Homo sapiens: one gene and its partner. Each later gene encodes a partner of the first gene's protein in a complex. Links are inferred from orthologs where the notes say so. Each region holds a gene or a part of one and is shown on either strand. Other genes may lie near its edges.

What was found. The genes of interacting proteins can lie anywhere in the genome.
Region 2: the proteins of CXADR (region 1) and JAML are in contact, whole or in part, in a crystal structure (PDB 3MJ7), measured with the Mus musculus proteins. The link is inferred for Homo sapiens from one-to-one orthologs. Residues at the interface, in NP_001020363.1 of Mus musculus: Thr23, Gly51, Pro52, Asp54, Glu56, Leu58, Ser60, Gln65, Ile66, Val67, Asp68, Gln69, Val70, Leu73, Tyr83, Lys121, Lys123, Lys124, Ala125, Pro126, Gly127, Val128, Asn130; in NP_001005421.3 of Mus musculus: Arg57, Asp59, Ala69, Tyr72, Phe75, Tyr77, Leu80, Val82, Glu120, Arg122, Ser127, Met128, Val129, Met130, Lys131.

What each region holds. Positions count from the first base shown.
Region 1 is NC_000021.9:17,557,087-17,565,726, reverse strand, and holds part of CXADR (coxsackievirus and adenovirus receptor isoform 1 precursor), read right to left. Parts: intron 6,752-8,640; coding exon 6,596-6,751; intron 5,026-6,595; coding exon 4,903-5,025; intron 4,390-4,902; coding exon 4,251-4,389; intron 300-4,250; coding exon 35-299; 3' UTR 1-34. UniProt on the Homo sapiens protein: Component of the epithelial apical junction complex that may function as a homophilic cell adhesion molecule and is essential for tight junction integrity.
Region 2 is NC_000011.10:118,193,969-118,201,865, forward strand, and holds part of JAML (junctional adhesion molecule-like isoform 1 precursor), read right to left. Parts: intron 6,645-7,897; coding exon 6,506-6,644; intron 4,124-6,505; coding exon 4,030-4,123; exon of another isoform or gene 4,000-4,029; intron 2,854-3,999; coding exon 2,767-2,853; intron 450-2,766; coding exon 357-449; 3' UTR 1-356. UniProt on the Homo sapiens protein: Transmembrane protein of the plasma membrane of leukocytes that control their migration and activation through interaction with CXADR, a plasma membrane receptor found on adjacent epithelial and endothelial cells.

The DNA of each region.
Region 1 (8,640 bases):
AACACGGAGAGCACAGATGAGACATATGGAGGCTCTATACTATAGACCCATCCTTGCTCTGTGCTGGAATCATCACAGGAATCGCACCCATTCGACTTAGATTAGGGGCAGCTACCTTAGCAGGTGGGAGAGTCGGACTCTGAGGAGTGCGTTCAAAGTCTTCACTTGGTACTTGGTTATACTGAGTCTTGGAATATCCTTCCATGTTGGAAGGAGACATGGACCCCAGGGATGAATGATTACTGCCGATGTAGCTTCTGGCAGTGGACGTACGGCTCTTTGGAGGTGGCACATCTTCCCTGCAAAGCAAAATCCCCAATACATGTCAAGAGAATAAGTTTCTAAAAACCTACAATTATGCAAGCTATGAATCATGGATAAGAGCCTGTATTTAGGTACTAAACATATAAAAGTGTGTGTGTGTGTGTGTGTGTGTGTGTGTGTCACAAAAAAGCAAAAAGCACAAGCCATAACGTCATAAATTGTGTATGTCTCCAATCTGTCATTCTGATTAAAGAGTTATAACTTCACACTTAATGAAATATGGTATTTACACAAATGTAGATGATTCTAGAATGTTGTCTTACAAAACACAAATCTCAAATAGTTTCATATTCTAGTATCACTGGTCAAGACAATCTAGTTAAAGCCATGTAACACTTTATAGTTGAGAAAACACTAACACCTACAGGTATATTTCTATCTTAATCACACCTGTAATCCCAGCACTTTGGGAAGCTGAGGTGGGCAGATCACTTGAGATCAGGAGTTCAAGACTAGCCTGGCCAATATGGCAAAACCCCATCTCTACTAAAAATACAAAAATTAGCCGGGCTTGGTGGCAGGTGCCTGTAATCCCAGCTACTCGGGAGGCTGAGGCAGGAGAATCGCTTGAACCCAGGAGGCCAAAGTTGCAGTGAGCCAAGATTGCGCCACAGCACTCCAGCCTGGGCGCCAGAGTGAGACTCTGTCTCAAAAAAAGAGAAATAAATAATAAATTTTAAAATTTTTTAAAAAAGGAAAAGAAAAAATTCTTTTTATATTAAAGTTATCTAAAACCTTAGCTGAAAACACTACAGATTTAAGTTTGCTGGGAATTTAGGCATAAGAATTTTCATACCAAACACTGACAGAGAGCTCAACTGGCCCTCCACATCCACGGGTTCCACATCTGTGAAGCCAACAAACCATGTATAGAAAATTTTGTTTTAATATTTTTAAAATACCTAACATGTACAGCTTTTTTCTTGTCATTATTCCCTAAACAATACATTATAACAATTATTTACATAGTATTTACATTATATTAGGTATTATAAGTAATCTAGAGATGACTCGAAGTATACAGAAGAATGTGTGCAGGTTATATACATTGTATCTTTTTCTTTTTCCTTTTTTTTTTTTTAATAGAGACATCTTGCTCAGGTTGGTGTCTTGAACTCCTGGGCTCAAATGATCCTCCCATCTCCGCCTCCCAAAGTGCTGGGATTACAGGCGTGAGTCACTGCGCCTGGCCGCCATTTTATATCAGGGACTTGAGCATCCTTGGATTTTGGTATCTGCAGGAGGTCCTCCATGGATACCGAAGAATAACTATGTATATGAGTTATCTTTGGTGCATTTAAAAAATACAGCCATACTCGTTTCATTGTGCCTTGCTTTTATTACACTTCATAGATACTTACTGCATTTTTGTTTTGTTTTGTTTTTTCTTTACAAATTGAAGGTTTGTGGTAACCTTGTGTCAAGCAAATGTATCAATACCTTTTTTTTTTTTTTTTTTTTTGAGACAGAGTCTTGCTCTGTTGCCCAGGCTGGAGTGCAGTGGCGTGATCTCAGCTCACTGCAAGCTCCACCTCCCGGGTTCACGCCATTCTCTTGCCTCAGCCTCCCGAGTGGCTGGGACTACAGGCGCCCGCCACTGCACCCGGCTAATTTTTTGTATTTTTAGTAGAGACGGGGTTTCACCGTGTTAGCCAGGATGGTCTCTATCTCCTGACCTCGTGATCCACCCATATCGGCCTCCCTAAGTGCTGGGATTACAGGTGTGAGCCACCGTGCCCGGCCACCAGTACCATTTTTCCAACAGCATGTGCTCACTTCATGTCTGTGTTGCATTTTGGAAATTCTCACAACAGTTCAAACTTTCTCATAATCATACCTGTTAGGGTGATCTGTGATCAGTGATCTTTGATGTTACTATTTTAACTGTTTTGGGGCACCATGAATGATGCCCATAAGAGACAGCAAACTTAATAAATGTTGTGTGTGTTCTGGCCATCCCCCCCAACATCCTCCCCATCTCTCACCCCTCCCTCAGGCCTCCCTATTCCCTGAGACACAATGATATTGAAATTAGGCCACTTAATAACCCTACAATGACCTCTAAGTGTTCAAGTAAAAGGAATAGTTATCATGGCTCTACTTTTTAAAAAAATATCTTATTTATTTTGAGACTGTCAACCACGGTAGGGTGCAGTGGTGCGATCCTAGCTCACTGCAAGCTCAAACTCCTGGAGTCAAGCAATCATCAGCAAGGCTCTCTTTAAATCAAAACCCAGAAATAATTAACCTTAGTGAGGACAGCATGTTGAAAACCAACACTGGTTGAAAGCTAGTATCTTGCACCAAACAGCCAAACCAAATTGTAAATGCAAAGAAAAAGTTCTTAAAGTAAAGTCAAAGTGTTACTCCAGTGAACACGTGAACGATAAGAAAGTGAAGCAGTCTTATTGCTGATATGGAGAAAGTTTAGTGGTCTGGATAGAGGATCAAAATAGTCACAACATTCCCTTACACCAAAGCCCAATCCAGAGCAAGGCCCTAACTCTATTCAATTCTATCAAGGCTGAGAGAGCTAAGGCAGCTGCAGAAGAAAAGTTGGAAGCTAACAGAGGCTGGTTAATGAGTTTAGGGAAAAAGGCCATTTCCATAACATAAAAATACAAAGTGAAGCAACAAAGTGCTGATGAAGAAGCTACAGAAAGTTATCCAGAAGATCTAGTTAAAAGATCGTTGATGAAGGTAACTACACTAAGTAACAGATTTTCAATAGAGACAAAACAGACTTCTACTGGAAGAAGACACCATCTAGGCCTTTAGTGGCTAAAGATGTCAATGTCTGGCTTCAAAGCTTTAAAGGACAGGTTGACATCTTGGCAGGAGCCAATGCAGCCCAGGAGTTCGAGACCACCCTTGGCAACATGGTGAAACCCCATCTCTACAAAAAATACAAGAATTAGTCAGGTGTGGTGGCTTATGCCTGTAGTCCCAGATACTCGGAAAGCTGAGGTGGGAGGATCACTTGAACCCAGGGGGCAGAGGTTGCAGTGGGCCATAATTGTATCACTCCACTCCAGCCTGGGCAACAGAGAGCGAGACCTTGTCTCAGAAAACAAACAACAAAAAACCCAACAACCAAAGAAAGAAATTGCCATAGCCACTGCAACCTTCAGCAACTACCATCCTGATCAGCCACCAGTCATCAACAGTGAGGCATGACCTTCCACCAGCAGAGAGATTAAGACTCACTGAGGGCTCAGATAATCATTAGCATTTTTTAGCAATATTTTTTAATTGGGGTATCTACACTGTTTTTTTACACATAATGCTACTGCACATTTTAGACTACAATATAGTATAAACATAACCTTTTATGCACTGGAAAAACAAAAACATTCATGTGATTTATCGCAGTGTGCGATAACTCTGAAGTGTGCCTGTACAAGTGTCCAGACCCCACCCTAGACCTGCCAAATGTCAATTTCTAGGGTGTGAAGTCATGTGTTATTACTTCTAAAATTCTATTATCTAATATGCACACTTCTCGTTAAGACCTACTGATTTAGAATATTTAAGGAAAATAAAAATTATACTACCAATTGTTCTACAAACTTCCAGATTACTTGATACAATCAGGTCAGTTTTTTTTTCAAACCTCAATATCTACTTCATCCCTACCACTGCAGGCAGGGATTCTTCTCAAGAAGCAGGCAGTCTTGAGATAATCATTTGGCAGTGGTTCTTAAAATGGGGTACGAGAAGGTTGGGGAGCGGGGCACAACGAATGGTGGTTGGAGCTCTGCACTTGCAGTTAGAAGTAAATGCTTTCAAATGTATTGAGAAGGCGGCCAGAGCTTTTACCCATTCTCCTAAGAAAGATGCTTTGGGTGGTTAATAAGAGAACGAATGCTTTAGAGAAATGACATATATTTGGTATACATCAGTCAACTCCTGTCTCACTTAATTACCTGATATCGTGATGAACTTCCTTTTCATATTTTTCTTCTCTGCGCTTTTTACGACAGCAAAAGATGATAAGACCAATGAGCGCTAGAGCAAGCAAAGTTCCTATAATGGCTCCTGCAATTAGTCCAGCTTTATTTGAAGCTAAAATAAGAAGAATTAATAGTAAAAAATATATACATATATACATGTATAGATACTGAAGGTAGGCTATACATTTTTAGATTGATTTCATCACGTGTTAACTTTAAGACAAATTATTTAGTCTTTTTGATCCGGGGGAAAAATTCATAAAAAGAACTGTCTTCTGAACTGTATAATCTATTCCAAGCATTAAAATGATAAAACCTGTCTGAAAGATTTTAATATTCAAAGCTATCTTGGTTAACATATAAGAATGTTCTAAGCTACTCATACTTATAACAGCTAAATATGGTACAAGGGTTGATTTGACAACTCTTACCTTCTTAATATATCATTGCAATTATGAAGTTTTTTTAATAAAATGTATTTTTCTAGAAAAGCTAATAATCAAACCACAGTGTTCTGATCAAAGTCAGTGTCCCTTTGTCCTTAATACACACTTGCTGACTGAACTAAAGGAGGTGGTATAAAGATAACAGAAACAAAACCACCAACAGAAAGAAGATAACTTACGAGGGACAACGTTTAGACGCAACAGGCACTGATCAGAGCCCACTCTGTTTCTGACTGTACAGCTGTATGTCCCAGAGTACTCAGAAGAGGCATTTTTTACAGATATAACAGATGAAGTCATTTCTATGGAAGGAGGAAAAAGAAAACAAACTCATTTTTATAGTATGTATTGTTATCAGGTGTTAGTAAACATAGTCCTCTCCAAATTAAACAATCCAGTTAAAAGCAAGACAGACCAAGGCTGGATGCAAGCAAACTGGCATTGAGCCACACAGATGTTTCCAGAATTCAATCATGCTTCCAGTTCACATGTATCAAGGTGAAAGTAACCATGATCCCCTGCAGCACACAGCCTCAGCTGGAGCAGGGGTGCTGGTCCACTGTGTACCTGCTGCAAACCCATCTTGGGGCACATAAGACTATAAACGCTACCGCATTCCACAAAGGATCTTTCCTGCAGCAGGAAAACATACAAAACCTATTTTATTCCCCCCTAGATGGAAGAAACATACAAAAGGAAGTCAGAAGAGGACTCCCAGATTGGTCTCTTAGTTTGAAAAACAGAGAGGCAGAGAGAAAACCTACTAAAGACCAGGATGCAGTGGATGGCGGGGTGGAGCCTGGTCATCAGTTTGAACTAAGAAGTCAATTATAACAAATAGGTGAGCAGATTTGGCCAATTTGTAACTTTCTAGTTAGTGTCACACGGGTTTTCTTTTAATTTACAGACACACCATGGGTAAATTACTATATTTTCAATCTAGGCAAAACACTAAAGAGCCAACTCTTACTATACTTTAGCCACCATCTAAGTTGTAATCATGAACATGTCTCATCAATTAAAAAAAAAAAATTCGCCAGGCGCAATGGCCCACACCTATACTTTGGGAGGCTGAGGTGGGTGGAGAGCTTGAGCCCAGGAGTTTGAGACCAGTGTGGGCAACATGCAGAAACTCCATGTCTACAAAAAATACAAAAATTAGCAGGGTGTGGTGACACATGCCTGTAGTCTCAGCTACTCGGGAGGCTGAAGTGGGAGGCTCACTTAAGCCTGGGAGGTGAAGACTGCAGGGAGCCGAGATTCTACCACTGCACGCCCAGCCTGGGTGACAGAGCGAGACCCCTTGTCTCGGAAAAAAAAAAAAAAAAAAAAAACCCAAAAAAAAGTACCAAAGTAACTAATATCCTAAAAAAATGAAATCATAGAATAGCTCTTCATTTATAATATATGACACTAAATTGATATTATAAAACACTGAATAATTCCTATGGAAATCCTGATTATTCTATGTAGAAAAGGGAAAGAAAGCATCTGGGAATCTACAATATACAAGCAGGCTGGGCACATGCCTGGGCTCATGCCTGTAATCCCAGCACTTTGGGAGGCCAAGGAAAGAGGACTCCTTGAGCCCAGGAGTTTGAGACCAGCACAGGCAACGCAGGGAGATCCTGTCTCTACACATTTTTTAAAAAAAAAATTAGCAGGGTGTGATGGCATGCACCTGTAGTTCCAGCTAACTGGGAGGCTGAGGTGGGAGGATGACTTGAGCCTAGGAGGTTGAAGCTTCAGTGAGCCGTGATTGCAGTGAGCCTGGGTGACAGAGCAAGGCCCTATCTCAAATCACACACACACCCCTACTAGATCTTAGTCCAAATCAATGGCATGTGGTACAAATACTATTATCAGCAGTACCTGCTAACCATGAAGTGGGCATTTTCTGTGAGTCAGACAATTTTTGCCACTCATACTGTAATGGAAGTGAACCTTCTTTTGGTTCACATTTTATCTTAAAGTCACTTCCAATTTCTTCAGATCCATCAACGTAACATCTCGCACCTGAAGGCTTAACTGAAAGAGAAAACAAATTATAAATTTACATAAGAGAATGGAACTTACTTTTATGAATACAGCATTGTACACAACCACTGACTCATTATCAGTTGGTTCTGGGTTCAGAATTCACAAAAGAATGAAAGACCACAGTAAGTGATCAACATCAGTTTATTCAGCTTTATCTGACACAAAACAGCAAAGAATAAGCTCAGACAAGCAGCCACTGCATTAGTAGATATGGCAATATCTCAGGCATAGCTCGGTGCCTGTCCATTTCATGGGGCACACCTGAAAAAAAGCAAGAATGATGCACTTGCTTTTTTCAGCAAGACCACTTGAGAGTCAAGGAAGCTCCCCCTCCCATTCCTTAGCTATTCTTCCCCATGCCTGACATGTAACCCTCTGGCAGTATGTACCAAGTCACATCCCTCTAGGCGCCATAACCCTGACAATCAGGCAGTTTATCATCAACAATACTAACAACACTTAGTGTGGCAAGGAACAACTAGCATTCTGCATTTACATCACCTCAAATCCATCCAAAGAGCAGGCTACAAAAAAGAAAACCTGGGCTGGGCATAGTGTAATCTCAGCACTTTGGAGGCCAAGACAGTGGGGGGATCACTTGAGGTCAGGGGTTTGAGACCAGCCTGGGTAACATAGCGAGACTCTGTCATAATAAAAACTTCGAAAAATTAGCTGGGTGTGGTGATGTGTGCCTGTGGTCGTAGCTACTTGGGAGGCTGGGGTAGGAGGATGACTTGAGACCAGGATTTTGAGGCTGCAGTGAAGCTTTGATCATGTCACTGCACTCCAGCCTAGGTGACAGAACCAGACCCTGAATCAAAAAGATATTCACAGCCTGGAAATTCATGTGTAAAAAAGAATATTTAATTAAAAAAAAAAAAAGGAAATCTGAGGTTATATTCCAGGTGTTTCTGGGTAACTGTTTAGAACAACTACTAACTCCATTACCTGCAACTCACCCCAATCCTGGATTAACACCTTGGCATTGCATACTCTTCTGCTGAACTTTAATAAGGTATAATATTCACACAATAAAGTTAACATGTTAATCACGTGGGCTGATCACTTTTAATAAATGTGTCTATATCCATTAAGCACCACTCCAACCCTCTCCCAAGGAAGTTCCCTCATGCTGGTTACAATAGATGGGACTCCAAAACCCTGGACCCAGGAAGCCACTGATCAGATTCTACCACTGTAGATTAGCTCTTCTTCTGGAACCACATGAATAGAATACTACAGTATGTATTTTCTTGTCTTCTTTTATTCAGCATAACATTTCTGAGATTGAGCCGTTATTGTATATATAGTTATTTTAGTATTTCAATGGACTATAACACAAGTTTGCTTATCCAGTCACCTGTTAATGAATACTGTGTTTCCAGTTTGGGGCTACTGTCAAAGCCCAGTCAGCCAAACTGACAAGGAGCAAGTGTGTGGTCTATCAAAATCAGATTGACTAGTGAGGACGGCATTACGAGGAACCACGGAATGCCACTGGACAAGAGCAGGGATGCTGAAGGATTCTCAGGAGGTTGTAAGGAAGTAGCCATCAGCTGTCAATCAGCTGTTTCTGAGATTAGGAAAAATGAGGATTAAACAGGAAGTGGGAGCTGTGAGGAGGTGGGGCCATTTAGTAATTGAGTATTCCAGTAAAGGATGGGTAGAGAAATGTGGGTCTGCGGGCAACACTAGAAAAGACAGCAATAGTCTATGCTTTACTACTACTCTATAACCTTGGGAGAGACAATGTTTTCTATAAACTCTGTGGCTGACTTTAATCTGTATCTGTCCTTCCGGCTGATAAACGTCAAGACTTTTTTCTTTTTTAGTTTAAGCTGATTTTCATTTTTTCAGTCGTGAATGGGTTTTTATTC
Region 2 (7,897 bases), on another chromosome or scaffold:
TTGGGTTGGTTTTTATCTCTGATTCTTCCCAGTAACTCATCCACTAAGAACCCTGCCCACAGGAGGGTCTGATCCAACGGGGGGTTTGAGGCCACTCAGCTCAGCCTGGTTCCCAGGGCCAGTGTCCCACTCCAGAGGCCAAGTCCATGCTCCCCTCCCCTCAGCAGGCCTGTTCCTCCAGAGCTGTCCAGTCTCTCTGCCAGGCTCCAAATTCTCCATCTTCAGTGTATTGACCAAACAATGAGACAGGAGGACAGCTGGGAGAGCGGGAGTCTGAAATCACTGGTAGAGTGGCCCAGGACACACACAGGAGAGAGTCTCCACCGCTGCTGAGATGAAGGGACTCTCCATTCTTCTCAAAAGGCTTGCTGTGTTTTTGGCATTCCCCCACCTGACTTTTTTTCAAGTGAGTTGTTCCGATCTGACCTCAGAGAAGGCCAAACTGGGTGCTGTGGGGGAAGGGCAGAAAGAAACAAAACATGCTTGTAAGAAGTAGTTCCATAATCATAGCAGCTGCTGTTCATTGAGCTCTTCTCATGAGCCCGGCCCAGTACTGAATTTCATATGCATTATCTCATGTGATCCTTACCACCAGGAGGTAGGTATTATTATTGCCTTTCTAAGGATAAGGAAACTGAGGCTCAGACAGGCCAAGTTACTGCCCAAGACCATCTGGCTGCAACACAGAGTTAGAATTTGGACCCAGGTCTGTCTAACTCCACAGCTTGTGATCTTAACCTCTGTGTGTACAGCCTCAGAAAGGGAAAACAGCAAGGTGCCACTACATTTACATGAATTTCATCAATTCAACAACAAAAAACAAAGGCTCTTTGTTACCCCTGCTCCCTATCAGAGAACACCTTTATAAATGCAGTCTCAAACAAGTGGCCTGCAGTCCCAAATTCACCAACAGCCTTATTTAACTTGGCACATCATATTTTAAAATAACTTGACTGGCCCCTGCCAGCCTTTGAGTTTGCAGCCCAGGCCTCTTCTCTTACTCTATTGGATCTAGATCAAGAGGACAGGAATGGTGTTTTCAACAGAATCAAAACCATAATCGCCTAGCATTAAACCTGGGGAAGTTAGCTGTGAAGACAATTGTTCCTCCTGCATCATCTCCACCTCGGAGACGTTCTGCAAACAGTGCCACCCTGGCTGGTGACCCACTCAGCAGTAGCCACAAGGCAGCTGTATCAGCAGGTCTCCAGGAGCCAGGATGAGGCCTCGCAAGTTACTGCAGCATCACATAACAGTATGGGAGAAAGATACAGAGGGAAAATGATTCCATTCAGCTGCAACTTCAGGGTGGAGTTAATGTTTCACTCGGTGGATCCAGGCCAGGCCTCTGATCTCACACTTCCCTGGCAGACCTCTCTCTGCTGCAATCAGCTGGGAGTCATGTGTCCTCAGGGCTGGTACGATAGGAACAAACAAAGCCCATCATTCCACAAGCAGAGGAGGCCAGCCTTCCCAAACCCACAGAACACTGCTCCTTAATAGGCTGGGTGCCTATAATTAGTCTACAAATAGCACCGTGCTCATCGCCAGCTCACTCCTTTTGTCCCTACCCCCACTCACTGCACGCCCCGAGGTGCCTTTTCCAGGCACTGCAGTTCTCTAAGGGGCTACAGAAGTCTAAGCAAAGGGAAATTAGGAATCAGACTCCAAAATATTGTATGAGATCCAGCATGCAGCCTGCCTGGCAGTTAGGTTATGAGAAGGTATAATAAGTCACAAAGTTAAGAAACAAAATCTAAGCATTGGAAGGAACCCTACTTTGACCTTTTGATAGCAAGGAAAACGACTCACAGCAACACAATACTTGCCCAAGGATCTTATCCTATTTATCCTATTTTCTTTGTTGTTGTTGTTGTTTTGAGACAGGAGTCTCGCTCTGTTTCCCAGGCTGGAGTGCAGTGGCGCGATCTTAGCTCACTGCAACCTCCACCTCCCAGGTTCAAGCAATTCTCCTGCCTCAGCCTCCCAAGTAGCTGGGATTACAGGTGCCCGCCACCATGCCTGGCTAATTTTTTTGTATTTTTAGTAAGACAGTGTTTCACCATGTTGGCCAGGCTGGTCTCAAACTCCTGACCTCAAGTGATCCACCTGCCTCAGCCTCCCAAAGTGCTAGGTTTACAGGTGTGAGCCACCATGCTCGGCCTTTTTTTTTTTTTTTGAAACAGAGTCTTACTCTGTCTCCCAGGCTGGAGTGTAGTGGTGGATCTCGGCTCATGTAACCAACGCCTTCCAGGTCCAAGCAATTCTCGTGCCTCAGCCTCCCAAGTAGCTGGGATTATAGGCACGCATCTCCACACCTGGCCAATTTTTGTATTTTTAGTAGAGAGGGAGTTTTGCCACATTGGCCAGGCTGGTCTTGAACTCCTGGCCTCAAGCAATCCGCCCACCTCGGCCTCCCAAAGTGCTGGGATTTCAGGCATGAGCCACCACACCCGGCCGTGTTTTCTTTATTAGATTGAACTGATGAGGCAAAAGACGTCCTCCCTGCCCTCAGTAAAAGCCACTCTTCACTTCTTTTCACCACTAATATAAATAATCTCTGGTGATAACCTTTAATCCTTGAGCTTGGGTAAGAAAGTTTGATATCACTCTTCTATCCAGCAGAACTTCAGTTTCTCAGACTTTTCTGCTACTTAGAAAAATCACCGCCCTCAGCAGCCTCCCTTGGGCAACCCAGCCACGCCCACCACCACCACCACCTGAGCCTCTGACACCTGGCTCAGCTGAGGCCAGAATCATTCTCACCATGGTCATGTAGGTGGCCTCTGATTTTTCACTTGGTTCTTCTTCCTCGATCACCTCCCGTACAATTATTGGGGAGTAAATGTGTTTCTAGAGGGGGAAAATGGTACAAAAATTCCTAAAAATTAGATGAATCTTATACACCAGAGAAAAGGCCACCCACTCCTATTTGCTAGGCATCGACCACCCAAACTGCTGGTTCAGAGGGTTACTGAGACCTAGAGAATTCTCAACAATGATAATTCAGTCTTCAGTCTTCTTGAAAATTAACTGTCAAAGAACACAGTCTTAAGAACCAAACTCTTTGCTTCAAAAGCCAAACATCTTTGTTTAGATGGATGTTTAGGTAGCAGCAGGGGTTCCTTATCTTGCTAAATTCCTTGTATTCTGGGGTTATTTCCTTCTAATTACAGTAAAGGCAGAATGGCATTAATCAGCAGTGAATTGTCATCATCTCCCTCAGAGGATTTATGTGGCAGGGCCAGCCCTCATTGAACCTCACAACTGTGAGGTTCATGGTCCTGTCACTCGTTGGTAAAGCAGTATCATCCAGTGGCCCATTCTTGGACCACTGCACTCTACTGGGAAAAAATCCTACTCTTGGGACAAAAACAGCCCAAAATAGAGAAAGGTAACTATTCAAAGAGTTTTTTTAAAATTAAAGAAAGAAAAGAAAGAATAGGAGTTAAAGAAAACCAATCAATTTCTCAGTCTCTAGAAGCAATTATTTATAACTCCATTACAAAATCAATATGGAGAGAAAAGTCCTTCTTAATCCTTTCTTGCTAAGATCTTAGACTATTTCATTTTAAGCATTAGAACTCCTTAACTCCTGGATGTATTATAATTCTCCATTAGACTTTAGACAAATAGCACCTCCTAGATTACAAAGCATTTGCATATCATCATCTTATGTGAACCTTACAACAACCCTGTCAAGCAGGCTGGGCAACTATAGTATCTTTATCTTTATCCTCATTTTGCTGATGAGACTCAGGGAGGTGGCAGATCTTACTGACTCCAAGCGCAGTGCTCTTTCCTCAGCCCAATACCAGGATCTGCTGCCTGGGGCTGTCCCAGCCGACCCCATGCACTGTACTCCGCAGAGGCTCTTACTTTAGTGACAAAGGCTTCCTGAGTCCCTGCTCTGTGCCAAGCACTGGCCTGCAAGCTGCGACATACAATGGGTAAGATATGGTTCCCGGGGGTATGAGAACGGCCCAGGCCTGCATCTACTTAGTGTTTTAGGCTGAAGCGTGTGTTCACCTCCCCTTCACATCTTTCAAAATGGCAGGGTTTTTCTTTTATCTCTGGATTAGTCTTCTTCGTGTTCTTCACCAAGACTGTAGAATTCACTGAACTGCAAGACATGAAAAGCATGTGGAATTAACCAGCGGGCATGGTTTATTCAAGGGTCCCTACATGAGATCCCCTCTTGGCTTCGTGAAGAGAGAGACACCAGAGAAGGAACTATTCTCTCTGGACTCCTACAGCCAGGGCTACCCGGCTCACCTGGAAACCTGAGAAGCGCATCTCTTCTAATGAAGAACAAGAAGCCGTTCTGGAGATAATTTAGGCTGAAAAGCAGCTTCAACTTCTCTATTATCACTCAAGCCACTTTCAGTCCGTATGGGAGAGGTAATTTTAAGTGAATGAAGAGAGAGAGGGGAGATGGGATTCCATTTGACCATCCTGTCTACATTTCTGAGGACCAGGGAGTGCCGCGAAACCAGCAGGGGGCAGCAGGAGCTCAGCAAGACGCCAATCCGAAGGGCTCCTGGCCTTTCCGGGGGGCGGAGCAGAATAACCCCCACAAACACCCGACCCAAGCCCCAAGCAGGAGCTCTGCGCCTGCCCTGTCGGGGTCCCTTGGCCTTTGATCTCATGACCATTTGCCTTCTGAACATACTTTCTTTTTTTCTATTTTGGCCTAAGTCAGAACTAAAAAAAAAAAAAAAAAATTCAAGGTTTAAGCTAGAAAAGAAACCATATGTTTTGGTCTCAGTGGAAATATTTTCCTTGTATTTTCTGCTTTTAAAGTTGTATCTTCTCACTGTCAAATAATTCAGATAATACAGAAATGTAGACAGTTGGAAGTGGAAGTTCCCTGCAACCCGTCACCCCATGGGATCCACCTTCTCCTTCACTTCAAATTCCACACAATTACCCACATTTTACAACTGTCCTTCCAAGCCTCTCTCAGTGTAAGCATAAGCTCACATAAAATGTATTTAGTACATATGCTGCTGGAGTGAGCATCATATTATTTTCTCTTTTATAAAAATGAGGTCATACCATAAATTCTGTATTTTTACTCCTTGGATATCTTTCCATGTCATTATGTAGAGGGATCTGGAGTGTTTCATTGACTGGTTCACTGAATCGTTGCCTTTCTGACAGACACTGGCAATTATCCCTATTTTTAATTATAAGCAAGACGGCAGTTTTGCACAAATCTCAGCATATCCATTTAATTATTTCTTTAGAATAAACGACTAGACATGGAAGTGCTACCTTTCCTTTGGCGGGAAACTGAGGTCCCGACAGGGGAAGTAAGCTGAGAGTGGAATCCAGGTTGTCTAGCTCAGTGCTCCGAGCATGCCCAGAGCAAAGACCTTTAGAGAGGCCAGCCAAGTTCAAAACCAAATCAGGAAGCCCTAGGGAGTGCAAGTGAAAACTTAGCAGGCACAAGTGTTTTCTGCAGGATCCAAGACCCACTGGGAAAGAACACTCAAAAGTCAGGACTATTCATGAGGCCCTTTCCCACTGACACTATTTCAACAAGGGAGTCGATCTGCACTACAAGCATACTCCATCGATAGTTGGATAAACTGAGGGACATGGATCTGCCAACAGCCAGTGAAACACAAGTGTCCCTGTTGGAGCATCTGGGCACTTCTGAGACCCTGGGAGAACTACCGATGAAATTCAGGCCTTTAAAAGCACATTATTATTATTATTATTTTTTTTTTTTTTTTTTTTTGAGACAGAGTCTCGCTCTGTCACCCAGGCTGGAGTGCAGTGGCGTGATCTCGGCTCACTGCAAGCTCCACCTCCCAGGTTCACGCCATTCTCCTGCCTCAGCCTCCCAAGTAGCTGGGAGTACAAGCACATGCCACCACGTCCAGCTAATTTTTTGCATTTTTAGTAAAGACAGCTTTTCACCGTGTTAGCAAGGATGGTCTCGATCTCCTGACCTCGTGATCCGCCCGCCTTGGCCTCTCAAAGTGCTGGGATTACAGGCATGAGACACTGCGCCTGGCCAAAAGCATCTTTTAATAATAATTCATTTAGAACCTGAGGGCACCCATTCAAAGATCGTATCTCATAATTAGAATGTGGTCTTTTAGATAAAACCACTGGCAACCCTTAAGATCTTAGCTTCTATGCGGAACGTACAGTATGGATAATTTAAAAATCATCTTTTAGGCAGTGAATGGTACCATGATAGTTCTTGTGTAAGATTTATGCTCTGAATTATGCCCTACTGAGGCCCCCATTTCTAAGGGAGTTTGTAGTCTTTACATAATAACAAAGTGAATGAGGAGAGCGTAGGAATATTAAATTCTTTTCCCGGGCACAGTAAGCAAAGTGGGCAGGGTTACCACAGATGATTCCATTTAAAAATACCCCCTTCTGTGAGAATGGCATAAGTAGGGCCCTATCACCCTGTTCTACTTTGGGGTAGAGGCAGCCTTGCACCCCCAGCCTCCCAATCCAAGGGGTGGGGGTAGCCCTGTACCTCTTATTTCCACAGGTCTTCTTCACGATCAATATCAGAACAGGGAGCAGCAGGATTGTGGCACAGACAATTCCCACAATGATCACCAACTGATTACCACCCAAGACCAGAGGCCTCAGGGCTGCCGGGGTCACCAGTGCTTGGGAAAGTAGAAAAGCAAGGAGAGGGTCTCAATACTTTAGCAAAGAGCTGAGAGCCCCACAGCCCTATACCAAGTAGCACCAGCCAGGCCACGAAGCGGAGGGGAAGGCCAGACTCCACCCCATATCTGGACACTAGGGACACTGTCTCCATGAGATTGAGAACCAAAGTCTAACCCCCTCGTTTACCCTAAAATGTAGATTAAGGTGGGTGGGAGAAGAGGCTAGCAGTTCACCTCTAGTAAAGTTTCCTTTCACATCAACAATTCTATTCTAAAATTTGGCTTAACAAGGACCCAGAAATAACAGGCATTTGAGAGGCTGCTGATCTTCCTTAGGGCAAGTGGTTGTCTTCAAAAGAACTCATGCCGCAAGACTCAGCCCCACAGTGACGATACCAAGTAAAGCCTCCGGAGGTACTTCTGCCCATATGGAACCTTCTACTCATCTGCATGGTTCTTTCTAAATACATAAAGCAAACACCTCCTCAGGGCCAGACAGCACTAGGTACAGGGGATTCAGAGATGAATGATGATGTGTGGTCCCTGCTTCCAAGGAAGAAGACAAACACGTCAACAGAAAACCACAGGCTGCTGTAGGCGCTACAACAGAAGTCTGTATGGGGAACAGAGGGGCACAGAAAAAAGGGTGTCCAATTCTATATGCAGCAAGTGAGAATTTGCCAGCAAAAGTTCTAAAGTTTAACCTAAGACTTACAGGAAACATCCAGTTTGTTGGGAAGACAATATGGAGAAGGACAGAGGGGATGTTCTGCATGAGATCTGGAGGCCTGACAGGATGATGATTTTAGAAACTAGAAAGAGTTCAACGGGTCTGGCACAAAAGTGGCATTTGTGGGTGTGCTGGAGAATTTCGCTGGAGAGATGACAGGGTCCAAGTCAGGAAGGACCTTGACTATCTCAACCAAGAATCTGGCATTTTTCTGCAGGCAATGAAAACAACATTGAAAGATTATTAGCAGTGGAAGAGAAAGTTCTTAATGTGATTTAGAAAGATGGCACCAAGAGCCGCGTGAAGAATGAGGAGCAGTGGCTGAGAGAGAAAGCAGAGACTGGTTAGAGGCCTACAGTTCAAGACAGAGATGAAGACAGCCAGAACTAAGGCGGCAGTGACAGACTGGAAGGAAGACAACTTCAAGAGTCTGTAGTAGGAGTCAAGGACTTGTTGACCTGACCTGTTAGATTAGGGGTCTAGGAAAGGGAAAGAATCAAGCACACCCCCAGGCATCTAG